Regions from separate parts of the Homo sapiens genome. Here region 1 is linked to region 2. A link means that fine-mapping ties the variant in region 2 to the expression of a gene that starts in the linked region. Tissue or cell type: cerebellar hemisphere. Region 2 holds a variant in brackets; the other region holds the start of a gene. All regions are shown on one strand. Distances are from middle to middle. Region 1 holds the start of SINHCAF (SIN3-HDAC complex associated factor). Region 2 holds the start of LOC124903091 (U6 spliceosomal RNA).

Evidence for each region.
Region 1: SINHCAF starts here. The variant in region 2 is fine-mapped to the expression of SINHCAF in cerebellar hemisphere (GTEx, PIP above 0.99). The same link has a PIP of 0.9 or more in cerebellum.

Annotation. Positions count from the first base shown.
Region 1 is chr12:31,322,823-31,331,152 of GRCh38, reverse strand. SINHCAF (SIN3-HDAC complex associated factor) reads left to right here and starts at 5,003. Exons shown (of 6, transcript NM_001135812.2): 1 at 5,003-5,129. It overlaps FLJ13224 (a long non-coding RNA gene), which reads right to left and starts at 6,837. Exons shown (of 1, transcript NR_026806.1): 1 at 5,208-6,837. RefSeq lists an enhancer at 4,983-5,914.
Region 2 is chr12:31,359,181-31,367,510 of GRCh38, reverse strand. It overlaps LINC02387 (long intergenic non-protein coding RNA 2387), which reads left to right. Exons shown (of 2, transcript NR_146469.1): 2 at 3,716-4,030. LOC124903091 (U6 spliceosomal RNA) reads right to left here and starts at 1,247; the gene lies at 1,145-1,247. RefSeq lists an enhancer at 2,493-2,992. The variant A/G (reference allele first, on the strand shown) is at 4,936.

The sequences.
Region 1 (8,330 bases), 36 kb after region 2:
GCAAATAAAATAGAATTATATAGAAATGAATTAGAGAGGCTTGAGCCCCTCAAGTTCTGAAATGATTTCACTATCTGGCACATAGTGATGATCATTAAATGTTTGCTAAAGGAATAAAAATTCAAGCGTTAGGGATAATTCTACAGCGAGACATACATTATAAGAAAGTAGTTAGCTTTCAACTTCAAAATGTTTGAAAACTACTTATGAGTTCAACATAGCATTGTAGTCATTAAAAAATACTCAGGGCAGGGTGTGGTGGCTCACGCCTGTAATCCTAGCACTTTGGGAGGCCAAGGTGGGTGAATTACCTGAGGTCGGGAGTTTGAGACCAGCCTAACCAACTATGGAGAAACCCCATCTCTACTAAAAATACAAAATTAGCCGGGCATGCAGGCTCATGCCTGTAATCCCAGCTACTCGGAAGGCTGAGGCAGGAGAATCGCTTGAACCCGGGAGGTGGAGGTTGTGGTGAGCCAAGATCGTGCCATTGCACTCTAGCCTGGGCAACAAGAGCAAAACTCCTTCTCAAAAAAAACAAACAAAAACAAAACAAAACAAAATCCGCAGATATTTTCCTAGCATGATGTAATTCAATCTCTTGTAATACAAATTGATATATTATAAATTACTTCTTGTATTTCCTTCTTTCCTTTTTCACGTTGAAAAATTCACTTGGGCAATTTAGGTAGTAGTAGTTAAAAGTAACCCATACATGAGCTATTGGGCCTGGGTAGGGCCATCCATAATGACATGTTCAAGCAACAAACTGGACAAAAGAACCTTCGGAATGCACTTGGTTGTTCAAAAATAGCAGGTGGTTGCTTTAAAAAAAAAGACTATGGAATTCCGATTTTTCTTTGAGAATTTTGTTTATTGCAATAGGATTATCAAAGAAAAATTAAAAAGTAATAAAAAATTTTAAAAAAGAATTTTGTAGCTACCCTTCCTAAAAAACTTACCCAGATTACTTCTTGACCTATACTTTGAGAGCAGAGGAAGTCTGGCTACATTAACTCAGTAGCTCTGCAACTTCTAGGTACTTTTTTACCTGAACGGTGTATCCTAAGTACTGTAATTCCTGCATTGCTTGCACATTTGCGTTTATTATTCCATCCCTGTATTACAATAAAATTTTTTTTTTTTTTGAGATGGAATCTTGCCCTGTTACCCAGGCTGGAGTGCAGTGGCGTGATCTCGGCTCACTGCAACCTCTGCCTCCCGGATTCAAGCAATTCTCCTGCCTCAGCCTCCCAAGTAGCTGGGATTACAGGCACGTGCCACCATGCCCGGCTAATTTTTTTGTATTTTTAGTAGAGACGAGGTTTCACCATATTGGCCAGGCTGGTCTCAAACTCCTGACCTTGTGATCCACCCACCTCGACCTCCCAAAATGCTGGGATTACAGGCAGGAGCCACCGCGTCCGGCCACAATAAATATTCTTTACATAAACTTTCAAGAGAAAAAGCATTCAAGGTACGTGTGTGTGTGTGTACACACTTACATATATGTATATATATACTCCTGTAAACCATAATTGGAGTTTAAAAAATATTATTATGGTATTTACAATTTTCTTTCTTTTCTTTTCTTTTTTTTTTGAGATGGAGTCTCGCTCTGTCACCCAGGTTGGAGTGCAGTGGTGTGATTTCAGCTCACTGCAACCTCTGCCTCCTGGGTTCAATCGATTCTCCTGCCTCAGCCTCCCAAGTAGCTAGGACTACAGGCGTGCACCACCATGCCCGGCTAATTTTTTGTATTTTTAGTAGAGACGGGGTTTCACCATGCTGTCCAGACTGGTCTCAAACTCCTGACCTTGTGATCCACCCGCTTCATCCTCCCAAAGTGCTGGGATTACAGGCATAAGCCACCGCGCCTGGCCAGTATTTGCAGTTTTCATACCTTCAGAGGCATATAATAATTTGAAATTATTTTTGGAAGATCTGTCATAAGCCAAATAAATATTTGAGACAACCCAGGACAATTGTTAAAATTCTCTTTAGAAAGAAGGCAGAAATTTATGATTAGGGTCCAATTTGCCACCAGTGGAACACAGAAACAGCTATTAAGCTTATTCATTTTTATTGTCATAAGGACAGGGCTGGCATATCAACCAATGTGACCACTATAACTTCCAAACTCATTTTAGGTCAAATGCAAAAATTGTAAACTAAAGTTCTGATTAGCGATAAACCTGTAAGAACCTTGAAAATGTCCATTAATTTTTTAAAATTATATTTATATATTTATTATTATTATTATTATTTTGAGACAGAGTTTAGCTCTTGTTGCCCAGGCTGGAGTGCAATGGCTTGATCTCTCGGCTCACCACAACCTCTGTCTCCTGGATTCAAGGGATTCTCCTGCCTCAGCCTCCCAAGTAGCTAGGATTATAGGCATGTGCCACCACGCCCGGCTAATTTTGCATTTTTGGTAGAGACGGGGTTTCTCCATGTTGGTCAGGCTGCTCTCAAACTCCCTACCTCAGGTAATTCACCCACATTGGCCTCCCAAAGTGCTGTGATTACAGGCGTGAGGCACTTCGCCTGGCCATTATTATTATTTTTTGAGACAAGAGTTTCACTCCGTCACCCAGGCTGGAGTGCAGTAGTGCGATTTCGGCTCACTGCAACCTCAGCCTCCCAGATTGAAGTGATTCTTGTGCCTTAGCCTCCCAAGTAGCTGGAATTACAGGTCTGTGCGAAAATGCCCAGCTAATTTATATATTTATTATATATATATATATATATTTTTTTTTTTTTTTTGAGACAGAGTCTTGCTCTATTGTCCAGGCTGGAGTGCAGTGGCGTGATCTTGGCTCACTGCAACCTCCGCCTCTCGGGTTCAGGCAATTCTCCTGCCTCAGCCTCCTGAGTAGCTAGGATTACAGGCATGTGCCACCACATCTCAGCCTCTCGAGTTGCAGGGATTACAGGTGAGTGCCACCATGCCCCACTAATTTTTGTATTTTTAGTAGAGACAGGGTTTCACTATGTTGGCCAGGCTGGTCTTGAACTCCTGACCTCAGGTGATCCACTTGCCTTGGCTTCCCAAAGTGCTGGGATTACAGGGGTGAGCCACCATGCCCGGCTAATTTTTATATTTTTAGCAGAGGCAGGTTTTCACCATGTTGGCCAGGCTGGTCTCGAACTCCTGACCTCATGTGATCTGCCTGCCTTGGCCTCCCAAAGTGCTAGGATTACAGGTGTGAGGCGCTGTGCCCAGCCGTTTATTACATTAAAAAAAAATTTTCCTAGCCAACTAATGCATGCAAGATGTCAGTATATATTATCTGATGTGCACTGTGTCAGGCACTGGAATACAAAGATGGGTAAGAAAGGCATAAAATCCTTGTCTTTAAGGAGCTCATATTTTAATGAGAGGTGTCCTTTTTCTTTCTGTTTTTTGTTTTTGTTTTTGTTTTTGTTTTGAGACAGTCTTGCTCTGTCGCCCAGGCTGGGGTGCAGTGGCGCAATCTCTGCTCACTGCAACCTCCGCCTCCCAGGTTCAAGCGATTCTCCTGCCTCAGGCTCCCGAATAGCTGGGATTACAGGTGCCCACCACCACGCCAGGCTATCTTTTCAGGTATTTATAATATAGTTTTCATATACAGTTACAGGAATAGTATGTTACAGAACCTAAAGAAAAATAAAGAAGTATTAGTTGAGGAGTTCAGAAGTGGGTTTATACTGTATGTACTAGGAATTGCCTGTTGAATTAAATTAACATTTCAGAAGTAACTATTTAAATCTGTATTGTTGACACTGCAGTGAAAGCAGCGAAACGTGTCAGCAGATGATTAAGTTTTATGGTTGATTTTCACACTTTTGTAACTTGGGACCAATATCAAGTTTCTGGGAAAAACATCCTTCCTCTCTCCCCACCCTCTATCATTAACCCCGGGTTTCTGCCTGTTGGTGTTAAGTGTGTCCTTGGGACAAAGGCGAATCAATCATTCGGTTTTCATTTTCCTCTTATCAATCTGAGAAGAGTTACTTCAGTTTTTTTCTTCCGGAGTCTAGAAAGCGCTTAGATTGTTGAATTATTACATATTCTGCATTGAAAAGTCTGTACGTCACTCGTTATTTTTTCCATTCCCAAGACCACCAGTTACTGGAATTATTTCTGGGTGAGTGGAACACCCTTTACAAGCTGCTAGAGGAGGTATGCCTGTCCCTAGGTTATTGGCTTTCCAATGCCTAGTCTTTTAAAGAAAGCGGCACTGTTCCCACGGAAATTAACAATCATTCAATTCGGAGAGACTTGAAATCTTAAGGCCGAAGTGGAGGAAAAAACTGGATTGTTATGGGTTGGGTTACTATTTGAGAAGGGCAAGCGGGAGTTAGCGAATGGCTAGGGTGTTAAAATGGGACTTTATTAAACGACTCATTACAACTGCACAAAAACTAAACCTTTGCTGGCCCCAGAGGATTTTTTTTTTACAAGCTTCAAAAACCTAACTTCAAACAAAATTTAGGAAACGTGGGATTAGTATAAATTCAGTCTGGGTGCTTACAAGACCACCTCCTCTGTCACCGACAGTGGGGACAGGTGTGAGAATTTTGCAAAAGCAGCTTTCAGAACAATTTTTCAGCGCTCAATGGTGCCCCTAACAACTTCGGGGGCGGAAAACACGCCAAGCAGCGCAGCCCTCCCCTCAGTTGCTAACCTTTCCCTTTCCCACCTCGCCTCTCCCTCTCCGCCGCGGCCTGCAGCCGGGGGGGGGGGCGTTTGTTTATGTGACGTCCGCCGTAGTAAGCAGTCCCCGCCCCCGTTTCCCTCTGGCCGCCGCGTTTCCCGCGCCGCGGAGCTTCTCCCCTTAAAAGGACAATAGAGGCCTCGGGAGCGCGCGCGGTCGCCGGGACTTCTCCCCCTCCCAGCCCGCAACGTGCGCGCGCCCGTATGCAAATAAGTTCGATTCAAGAGAATTTTGTGCCGGGAGCCGCGCGTGCGCAGAGGGAAAGCGGAATCTACACCTTCCCGGCCAGCGGTAGCAACTGCAGAACTGCAGGAGACTATCTTTCTAGACAAGGCAGTTGAGGAGGAGGGAGCGCTTGAGGGGGACTGGCCTGGCGTGCACTCCGCACCTCGGGGACATTATTGCGCGTGGAACGGCTGCTTTTGGAAGGTGAGTGACTCTCACCATGCTTCTAGTGCAAAACTGTCTCACGAGGCTTTGATTTCAGTGTTTTTTTTTTTCTCTTTTCACCTCCACCCACCTCCCCCCGTCCTTCCACATACACACAGGAAGTTTTGTCTTGGAGGTGGCATTGTTGGGAGCGCTGTTTTCGTGATCTTCAGACCCCAGGTTCTTTGGTACGCTCGTGTTTAGTGTGTATTTATTAATTGGGGAGGGTATTTGAGGCAAACCGAAAGTCTCGGGGCGGGGAAGTGAGTGGAGCCTGGGCATAATTGAGGAGTCGCCGGAGTTGAGGGATCCACGTTGAAGGTGACAATGACTTTTCTCCGCCGCAGTGTTCTCTCGCGGAAAGGAGCCCGGCGGCCGAAAGGCCCGAGAGGAAAGCGACTCGTTGGCCACCGCGCAGCGGCCGGGGTCGGTGCGTCCGCGTGGGCGCGAGGCGCGGGCAGGGTCGGGCGCCGTTGTGAAACCTCGTGGTTTAGTTGACTGCAGCCCTCGGACTAGGGTGGACAATAAACGCCATTCGCTCGGAAACTAAGTTGCCATCCGCTTCCGAGCTGGCGGCCGAGGGTCTTTAAATCGGCCTTTGGGGGTCAGTGCTGGGCTCTGCCGGAGCGCACGCGGCGTGGCGTTGTTTGCTCAACTCCGGAGGGATGCGGATGCGACAATGAGAGCAACACGCGGTCGCTTAAAAACAGCCCGTCTTCCACTCGCCTGCCCTCTTCGGACCGCGCCCAAGAGCCTCTGGTGTCCGGGGTGCTTTCGGAGCCCGAAGTTTTGCTCCCGGTGCGTTCACCTGTAGCGTAGGTGTGGGCGACACCGCGAGGGCTTCCCGTTTATGGGCGGCCGTCCGCGCTGTAAGATGGCCAGGGAAGCCAACTTGGCTGGAGATGGAGGCGGCGGCGTTGTGTACGCCGCGGGAGTCAGTGAACTCCGCAGGGCACTGCTTTTTGTGCTCTACGTGACAGACCACGTGCTTCGGGCTGCGACCCTGGTCCTTGTCCGAATGTCCAGCCCCGCGTGAGCCGTGGGATGCGGCCGCCGTCGGGCAGGTCCGGCCGGCAGGACAATGTGGTTTGCTGATGATGGCGTCTTGCCAGTTTAAAAAGCAGAGTGAAAGTCGCCAACTCTCCGCCCGTGCGGGGCGGATACTCCGGGCGTTTCTCATCAAGGACACTGCAAAACTTTGATTAAATGGGCCTGCTCCCGAGGGGAGGGTCGGGGGGCCAGGCTCCGGACTCTTCGGGGCGCGGGGTCCGGACCCCTACCCAGGGTGATCGTCCAGTGTCCGGCCCCTGCGAAACGCTCCGACATCCCTGATGCTGCACGTAGGCAGCGCCCGGCTGGACAGAAAACAAAGGGCTGCATGTGCCCGTGCGGGCCCCCGGCGCTCGGGGCCGCCGCCTGGGCGTAGGGCCGTGCAGGTCGGAGGCCCTCGAAGTTCGGGCGAGTTTCGGGAGGGGCTTTTGTCCCTCAGCCCCCTCGTGGGGAAACTTTGGCGGCGCTACTTGTGCGAGGTGCCATGCTGGTGCGTAGGGAGGCGGCGTGCTTCCCCGCTCCGGGCGTGCGGGCGGGCGACCGAGGGAGGCGGCAGTGCCCGGCGCTTCAGCCCTGGCGTCGGGGGTTGCGACGGCCGAGGGTTCCGGGGAGCTTGGCCCGGACTGCTCGGCCGGTTTCTCGTGGCCCGGGAGCCTGTGTCTGGGAGGTCTGTGGGTTCGCCTTTGAAGTCGAACTGTTGCCATGTTTGAATTACGTCAGGGCAAAGCCATGAGGAGGAACAAGCCCCGGCAGCGCGGCGTGCGGGAGGCGCGGCCTGCGGGAGGCGCCGGGCCGGGCTGGCGCGGGGCCCGTTGTTCCGGCGCAGGTGAGGGAGGTGGCGGCGAGCGACGCGGTTCACCTCCCGCTGCCCTCGCCCTCGCCCCGGCGAGCGGCCCCCGCAGGAACTTTCCTCCCGACGCGAGATGTCTTATTTACCAACAAATCCACCAGGGAGCATTCTTACTTGCTGGCTCGGCGTCTCTCTCGGCAGTCACCGGAGTGCCCGAGGGGGAAGCACGATTTACGGAAGGTGGGGACCCGAGGGCCCTGGGAGGAGCGGGGAGGCATTTTACTGCTTTCAGAGAAACGGGTGAGGGCGGCGAGCACCTCCTCCCCAGCCGAGCTGTGGCCCGCAAGTCCAGGGGACCCAGCCCCGACGACGCCCGATAAACCACCGTGGGGAAGTTCCGGGGCTCCCTGTTGCCCTACTAAGGGAAGTGAGGACTGTGGGCGAATTGTGCGTGCGGCCAGTTTCTTTGTGTGTTTCTAGGGGGTGGGGGGAGCGGGGAAGGGCAAGGTTTGTTTTGGTGTAGGGGGAGTTGGTTTCTTGAGGTGGTAGGGCGGTGCAGTTTGTTCTGGTAACTATGACCCTAGTCAGTTTCTTTGTTTTTATTTTCTTCCTGTAACCTTCCATTACTTCAGGCACTCGGAAGATTAGGATTTACTCTTGAGTTAAACAGGGACCCTATCCGAGACAGTTTTACCCCAGCAATTCTTTCTCCCCCTTCTTAAGTTGTCCTAAGGAGGGTTAAGAAAAGCTTTTCTTTTTCTTTTAATAATTTAAAAATGAATTTGACCTTGTTATTCAGAGTACGCTGAAAGCACCTGTTTTTGAACTGGAATTTGCCAGACTTGAAAAGCCTTTTAAAATTTTATGTCGCAAAATTGAACACATTTAGTTGCCCAATCTAAAAGTCTGGGAGTTTGTTTCTGGTGGAGTTTCGGAGAAAACCCTCATGGCATTTAAAGTATTTATATAATGATTTTGGGAAGGGGGATCTTTTTTAGGCGAAAGGTATGCGTGACTCAGTGTTTGGTGGTTATTCAGTGCCTTAGGATGACCTTGAAGAAGCAAATGTTTAGGGAGTTGGGCCTTTTGGAAACATTGTAAGGAGGCTGGGGAGCTGGCTGGGGAGGAAGCTGCTCAGGAAGATGACACAGGGTAACGGCTAGCTTCTTCCCAGATCCCGTGAACTGTGGTTGACCTTCTGGTTACCTCTCCTAGATTTTTCTTTTCAAGCTAACCTTTTCTTTTTTTGTATGTGGCCCCAGGCATAGCTCAAAAATTATGCTGGTTTGACACATGGATGCTTCTTTGGTATTTGGGGTTTGCCTGTAGTCTAGACATCCGATACCCACCACCATATCTGT
Region 2 (8,330 bases):
ATTTTTAGTAGAGATGGGGTTTCTCCATGTTGGTCAGGCTGGTTTCGAACTCCTGACCTCAGGTGATCCACCCGCCTCGGCCTCCCAAAGTGCTGGGGTTACAGGCGTGAGCTACTGCGCCCAGCTGAAAAGTATTTCTTAGAGGTTTAAATGAGTGATGTCAAAACTCTTTGAGGTGATGGATATGTTAATTACCCTGATTAGATCATTACACATTGTATGCCTATATCAAAATCTCACATGGTACCGCATAAATATATACAATTATTATGTGTCAATTAAAAATAATAAAAGCAGAAAACTCCAAATAAAATGTTTAAAAAGCTTGTCACACTTCAAAGTCACTTGGCACATTAAAAAATAGTTTCTCCTGCTTCACCCTTGAGAGGTTAATTTTATGGAATTGGGGCAAACCCAGAATCTGGTTTTTTTTTGTTTTGTTTTGTTTTTTTGAGACAGAGTCTCACTTGTCGCCCAGGCTGGAGTGCAGTGGCTCGATCTCCGCTCACTGCAAGCTCTGCCTCCTGGATTCATGACATTCTCCTGCCTCAGTCTCCCGAGTAGCTGGGATTACAGGCGCCCGCCACCATGCCCGGCTAATTTTTTTGTATTTTTAGTAGAGATGGGGTTTCACCGTGTTGGCCAGGATGGTCTCGATCTCCTGACCTCATGATCCGCCCGCCTCGGCCTCCCAAAGTGAGCCACCGTGCCCGGCAGAATATGTATTTTTAAAAACCACCCAGGTGATTCCTAAATTGCTGCTACAAAGACCAGTTTGGGGAACTTGTGATCTAAATGCTTATCTATATTTTGTATGTTTGGTTTTTTTCAAAATGAATATAAAAAGTATGAGGCTGGGCACAGTGGCTCGCGCCTGTAATCCCAGCACTTTAGGAGACTGAGGCGGGTGGATCGCTTGAGCTCAGTAGTTTGAAACCAGCCTGGGTAACATAGTGAAACCCCGTCTCTACCAAAAATACAAAAATTAGCCGGGCACAGTGGTGCATGCCTATAGTCCCAGCTACTCCAGAGGCTGAGGCAGAAGAATCCATTGAGCCCGGGAGGTGGAGGTTGCAGTGAGCTGAGATCACGCCACTGTAGTCCAGCCTTGGTGATAGGAGTGAAACACTGTCTCCAAAAAAAAAAAAAAAAGGAATGCTTGATGAATTTGCGTGTCATCTTTGTGCAGGAGCCATGCTAATCTTCTCTGTTACCGTTCCAGTGTTCCAATTTTAGTACATGTACGGCCGAATCAGGCACTTTGTTTTTTAATGGTGTTTGGAAGTGACAGTTTTAATTTTTTTTTTTTTTGAGGCGGAGTTTCACTCTGTTGCCCAGGCTGGAGTGCAATGGCATGATCTCCACTCATTGCAACCTCTGCCTCCCAGGTTCAAACAATTCTCCAGACTCAGCCTCCCAAGTAGCTGGGTTTACAGGCACCCACCACCACGCCCAGCTAATTTTTGTATTTTTTAGTAGAGACGGGGTTTCACCATGCTGGCCAGGCTGCTCTCAAACTCCTGACTGCAGGTGATCCTCCTGCCTCAGCCTCCCAAAGTGCTGGGATTAGAGGCGTGAGCCACTGTGTCCAGCCTTTAAAACATTTTTAAGTAATGGAGGCCAGGTGTGGTGGCTCACACCTGTAATCTCAGCACTCTGGGAGGCTGGGGTGGGAGGATTGCTTGAGAATCAGGAGGTGGAGGCTGTAGTGAGCCATGATTGTACCACTGCACTTCGGCCTGAGCAACAGAGCAAAAAATATAAAATAAAATAAATATAATATAAAATAGGCCGGGTATGGTGGCTCACGCCTGTAATCCCAGCACTTTGGGAGGCTGAGGCAGGTGGATCACAAGGTCAGGAGTTCGAGACCAGCCTGGCTAATACGGTGAAACCCCATCTCTACTAAAAATACAAAAATTAGCCAGCCATGTTGGTGGGCGCCTGTAATCCCAGCTACTCTGGAGGCTGAGGCAGGAGAATCACTTGAACCCGGGAGGCAGAGGTTGCAGTGAGCAGAGATCGTGCCACTGCACTCCAGCCTGGGCAACAGAGCCAGACTCCATCTCAAAAAAATAAAATAAAATAAATATTAAGTAATGCTTTGCATTTCTGGAAAACATTCCTTTTCTCCTTCCTCCCCACCCACAGTGGGCTTCAACTCACCGGCCTCCTTTCAGTCCTTACCTAACCTACTGTGCTGTTCTCATAGTACTCGAAGCTCTCTTCTGGCTTCCCGTGATTCCTGGCTTTCTCCTGTCCTCTCTGGCAACATATTTTTGACTTTCTTTTGTGAATGACAATTGGCAAGACTTTCTTCCTTTACTATCTTTCAAAGCAAGCACTGTTGCTGCGTAAGGTGTCCTAGAAACTCTGGGAAAGGGTCCCAGGGCCATGTTAACTACTCCCATCACGGGCGTCTAGGTGCTTGGATTTTCAAGTCTCCATCTCTCACCATTTCTTTAAGAGGCTTTCCAGATCCCCGCATGTCAACTGCCTACGAGGCATTTATTCTCAGATGGCCTACAAAGCACCTCAAACTCAGTATTTCTCAAATATTAAGTTTCTGTCCATGTTTGCCCTCTGTGCCTCACAGCTTAGAGAATAGCTCCACCCAGTTACTCAAGCCAGAAACCTTGGGGTGTCCTAGTCATTCATCTAGTGCCACTGTCCTAAACGCTGGGGATACCAGAGACTACAAACAAGAATCCCTGTCCTCATTGAGCTTATGTTCCAGAGGAGGAAGACGGACATAAGCAGTCAGTTCCTACACCCAGGGACGCCAGCTCTGCAGCAGCGCTGCTGCCAGCCATTCAGCCTCTCCAGCACCTCAGTTCAATCCCCCCACCTGCCGCACCCGCCAGCTGGCCTTCCTCTGCTCTTTTACTCTCTTCAATCCATTCTCCCCACAGCAGTGATAACCTTCCTTCTTTTCTTTTCTTTTTTTTTTCTTTCTTTTTTTTCCCTTTCCTTTCTTTCAGATACAGTCTCACTCTGTCACCCAGGCTGGAGTGCAGCGGTGCCATCTTGGCTCACTGCAACCTCCTCCACCTCCCGGGTTCAGGCGATTCTCCTGCCTCAGCCTCCCGCATAGCTGGGATTACAAGCACCCACCACCATGCCCAGCTAATTTTTTTGTATTTTTAGGAGAACCAGGGTTTCACCATGTTGGCCAGGCTGGTCTCGAACTCCTGACCTCAGGTGATCCGCCCACCTCAGCCTCCCAAAATGCTGGGATTACAGGCGTGAGCCACTGAGCTGGGCCAGCAGTGTAATCTTTCTAAAGCCAAATCTTAACCGTTAGCCTCAAGCTTTAGGATCTTCATGCTTGCAGGATAAAGTCCACCCTTACAAACCTGGGTTAAAAGATGGTACAAGTTCTGGGCCCTGCTGGCCTCTCCACAGCACTGCTCACCCTCAGGCAGTGCTCTCTGTGCAGCCATACTGAGTTACAACCATGGTTCACTGCACCTGCCGTCCCCCAACTCCCTCCTGCCTCCCTGCCTGGTGAACTCCTGTCATTCTGTAGGTCTCAGCTTGGATGCTGTGACAGGGAGCCTCTAGAATGGCCCCCAGTGACCCCTATCTCCTAGTAATCCCTTTCCCTTGAGTGAGCTGGATTTACAGATGCAATTTTGAATAATAGAACCTTGTAGAAGGGATGAGTTGTCACTTCTGAGATTAGGTTATATAAAGACTGTCACTTCTTTCTAAGGGCTCTTTCTCACTTGGATGGTCCCCAGAAAGTCAGCTGCCATGTCACGAAGTGCCCTGTGAGAAGGACCTGTAAGGAGGGACGGAGGGAGGCCTCTAAATGACAGCCTTCGAGGAACTGAATCCTGCTGGTGACCATGTGAGGGAGCTTGGACTCCGGTCCCCCTGTGTTGAGCCTTCAGATGAGTTGGCAGCCCCAGCTGGTGGCATGACTGTAACGTCCTGAAACACCTTCAGCCAGAAAGCATTCAGCTAAACCACACCTGTATTTCTGACCCAAAGAAATTGTGAGATAATAAACATTTCTTCTCTTGAACTGCTATACCTTAAGCTAATTCGTTACACAGCAATAGATAACAAATACTACCTCTGGACCCCTGCCTGCCACCATACCAAATTCCATGCTCTGAGTTCTAGAGTCAGTGGTGTTTCCACCTGTCATGCCCAGCCCTTCACTGCTAGTATTATAATGAGGGCTTGCCCATATCTCTGCCCCCAGATGGCAGACTCTGTACAGGAAAGAAGGAAGGAGGAGTGGGAAGTCACCACTTTCTTTCTCAAGACTCTGAGTCTCTATTCTGCTGCTGGCCACATGTTTATACCCACAGTGTCAACAGCGCCTGGCCCCAAAGTGCAGCTGCAACTTCAGGAAGAGACTCAGGCCAGCCAGAGCCAAAGCTCTATGGCAGCCACCTTCCTCCACCTCCTTCTATTACACTTCCCTCCACCTCCCTCCATCTCCTCAGTCTTCTCAGCCAGCTTCCCCTGACCCTTGAGCACCAGGCAAGCATGCACACACACAGGCACATGCAGGCATGCACGCACGACACCAGGCCCACAGCCTCTCTTTACTCCAGAGGAGCTAGGTGGAGTCACTCCTCCCTCCTTTCACACACACCCTGGGGCCACGCTTTTGTGGCTTTTCTGAATGAAAGGGGAGGTGAGGTGGGGGTGGGGGAAGCCGTCTCTGCCTTTGAACTGCCCAGTTCCTCCACCTTTATTTCCAGCTAACCACCGAGTGCCTGCAAAAAAACAAAACAAAACAAACCAGAAAAACTAAAAAAGGAGCCCAAGTGTCTCTTGCTGCTTTCAGTTTCTGGAGAGCCAGCACACAGGTCACCCACTATCCCTGCCGAAACCCTGAGGTCTGAGGAAGGCCTCTTCACACTGCCTCTGGGCGCTGCCTTTGGCTTCCGGGAGCCCCCCATGCACTTCCCTGGA[A/G]ACAGGTGGAGCTCTGTCCTGTGGCTCTGATTCACTCTCCTGTCCCTCGGTACACCATTGCGCCGTGTCCTCCTGCTGGCCCTTCTGTTACCCTGTACTTGCTGTACACTACCACGGTGGCCGGGGGCCTCAGCACCAGGAAAGCAACTTCCCCCGTGTCCTCCCCAACTCCTGAGTCCAATCCTTCAAGTCTATGGTGCCGAAGCAGGGGAAATGAATGTTGGAGAGACATGCCTGGGTCTGAACTCACCTCTATTGAAGGAAAACAAAGCTCACTAAGATTGCACCCTACGGTGTGTGCTTCTGTTCTCTCCACCTACCGTCAGCACTCTCAGCAGTTTTCCTCTTGGCTCTGCCTCCTGCAATTACTTTCTGCTCAGCTGCTTGCTGTTGCTAAGAAGGGTTATGCCCATCAACTGTGCTGTAGACATGCAGTATTGTGACGATGGGAGGGACATGGCTTGGAAGGTGGCTTTAATTTGAATTCTGCCATTTATGATATTTGGCCCTGGGTGTGTTACCTGATCGTCCTGTGCCTTATCCTCTGCGTCTGCTAATAGACCGTTTCCCAGGGTTGGGCAGAGATGAAATTAAATAAAACCACACACACTACAGTGCATGGAATGTACTAGGTGTTCAATAAATGTTTCCTTTTTTTTTTTTTTTGAGACTGAGTTTCGCTCTGTTGCCCAGGCTGGCGTGCAATGGCGCGATCTTGGCTCACCGCAACCTCCGCCTCCCGGGTTCAAGCGATTCGCCTGCCCCAGCCTCCTGAGTAGGTGGGATGACAGGCACGTGCCACTATGCCCAGCTAATTTTTGTATTTTTATTTTTAATTTTTTCGAGACAGAGTCTTGCTCTGTTGCCCAGGCTGGAGTGCAGTGGCGAGATCTTGGCTCACTGCAACCTCCACCTCCTGGGTTTTAAGCAATTCTCTGCCTCAGCCTTCTGAGTAGTTGGGATTACAGTCACGTGCCACCATGCCCAGCTAATTTTTTGTATTTTTAGTAGAGATGGGGTTTCACCATCTTGGCCAGGCTGGTCTTGAACTCCTGACCTCATGATCTACCTGCCTTGGCCTCCCAAAGTGCTGGGATTACAGGCATGAGCCACTGTGCGCGGCCAAATGTTTCTTGTCTTGTGTTTCAAAAGGACTTTAAGGCCAGGCACAGTGGTTCATGCCTGTAATACCAACCCTTTGGGAGGCTGAGGGAGGAGGACTGCTTGAAGCTAGGAATTTGAGACCAGCCTGGGCAACATAGCAAGACCCTGACTCAACAAAACTCTTAAAAAACCAAAAGCATTAGCCTGGCGTGGTAGCATGCACCTGTAGTCCCAACTTCTCTGGAGGCTGAAGTGGGAGGATCACTTGAGCTCAGGAGTTGGAGGCTGCACTGAGCTATGACTGCACCACTGAACTCCAGCCTGGGCAACAGAGTGAGACCCTGGTTCTAAAAATAAATAAATAAATAAATAAATAAATAAATAAATAAATAAGGACTTTTAACAACCCTTGTACTTTTTTATTGGAAATACGCATAGAAAGCAAAGAAGATTTTGAGGTCTAGCTGATAAAGGGCCACATTCAGTCTTTTATTGGTTTTTTGGTGAAGCAGGAAGACGTTGAGGGTGGTATGAGGATACTACTCTTTTATTGGTTTTTAATCTGACTTACCCTGCCGTGCTGAGTTAATGCTGTGGAAAACAGCTGCTCAAATGCCAGAGGAATGGATGTGCCTGAACCTGCCCCTGACTCCCAGGTGGTAAGGTGTTTTTCATGTTTGTGTTCAGGTCTCTGTGCCTTTGCTTTGGCCTCACCACGATGGAAGGGAAGTGCCCACATCGCAGGGAGCACACAGAATATGACGGCTAACATGCTACATCCAGCCTGCCATTATCCGCAGGGGTATGGCGTCATTGGATTCACATTTATCATTCAACTTCCAGATCAACAAAGCTTGTCTTCATAAATTAAGTGCATCCAAGTTTCTTTATATTGGCCACAGCAGACACAGAGGATCCGCAGCAAATCATGGATTTCAGTGGTCTTTTCAAATCAGTCAAGTTTAGGTCTAGTATGTGCTAGTGCCTAACTCTAAGCATAATAAGAAGAGGAGCCAAACACATTATGTTGAGATTTTTAGAAATTTAACTCAAGGTTGGGCGTGGTGGCTCACGCCTGTAATCCCAGCACTTTGGGAGGCCGAGGAGGGTAGATCACTTGAGGTCAGGAGTTGGACACCAGCCTTGGGCAACATGGTGAAACCCCATCTCTACTAAAAACTACAAAAATTAGTGTGGTGGCGGGTGCCTGTAATTCCAGCTACTTGGGAGGCTGAGGCAGGAGAATTGCTTGAATCCAGGAGGTGGAGGTTGCAGTGAGCCGAGATCACTCCAGCCTGGGCGACAAAGCAAGAATCTGTCTCAAAAAAAAAAAAAATTTAAATCAATTGTAGGAGTTTCTATACACACAGAAAATCCATTATTAAAATAGTTCAACTTTTTCTCTACAATGTGAAAAACTACCGTAGTTCTGTAAACCAAGGTTTAATCAAGAGCAGATCAAAATTGAGTTCTGAAGTCTACATACTAACTTCTTGATAACATAAACAGGAAGAGGTATAAAAGGCTATTTTGGGCTGGGCACAGTGGCTCACGCCTGTAATCCCAGCACTTTGGGAGGCTGAGGCGGGCGGATCACGAGGTCAGGAGATCAAGACCATCCTGGCTAACATGGTGAAACCCTGTCTCTACTAAAAATACAAAAAAAAAAAAAAAAATTAGCCAGGCGTGGTGACGGGCGCCTGTAGTCCCAGCTACTTGGGAGGCTGAGGCAGGAGAATGGTGTGAACTTGGGAAGCGGAGCTTGCTGTGAGCCAAGATGGTGCCACTGCACTCCAGCCTGGGGGACAGAGCGAGTCTCCGTCTCAAAAATAAATAAATAAATAAATAAATAAATAAAAGGCTATTCTGACAGTGGGAGAGGCAATTTAGCATTTTATATAACTAAAATCAGCACTTCAAAGAACACTGCAGAGGGGCTTCTACTCTCAGCCAGTCTCCAGGACAATGTCTGAACTTGCCCTCCACCAAGCCATTTAGGGTTGTTTGCCATTTAAAATGATAAATACTAGTCATCACTTATAATAATTGGTATGGCACTTAAAGAAAGCAAAATAAAGTTGTCAGAGAAGGAGGCTGGTTGGGTTTGACTAGTTGCTCAGACAGTATTGTGTTGCTTTATTTAGGTCATAATGCCCAAATTCTCAGCTTTGGAGGGCCCCAACTCTCCTATTTTGCTAGGATAGTTGAGGTGATCACTCAGGCTCACAGAGCTAACAGTAACCAAACTCCTAAGAGACAGATGTGCAAGCCAGGTGCCAATGTGTAGTTTT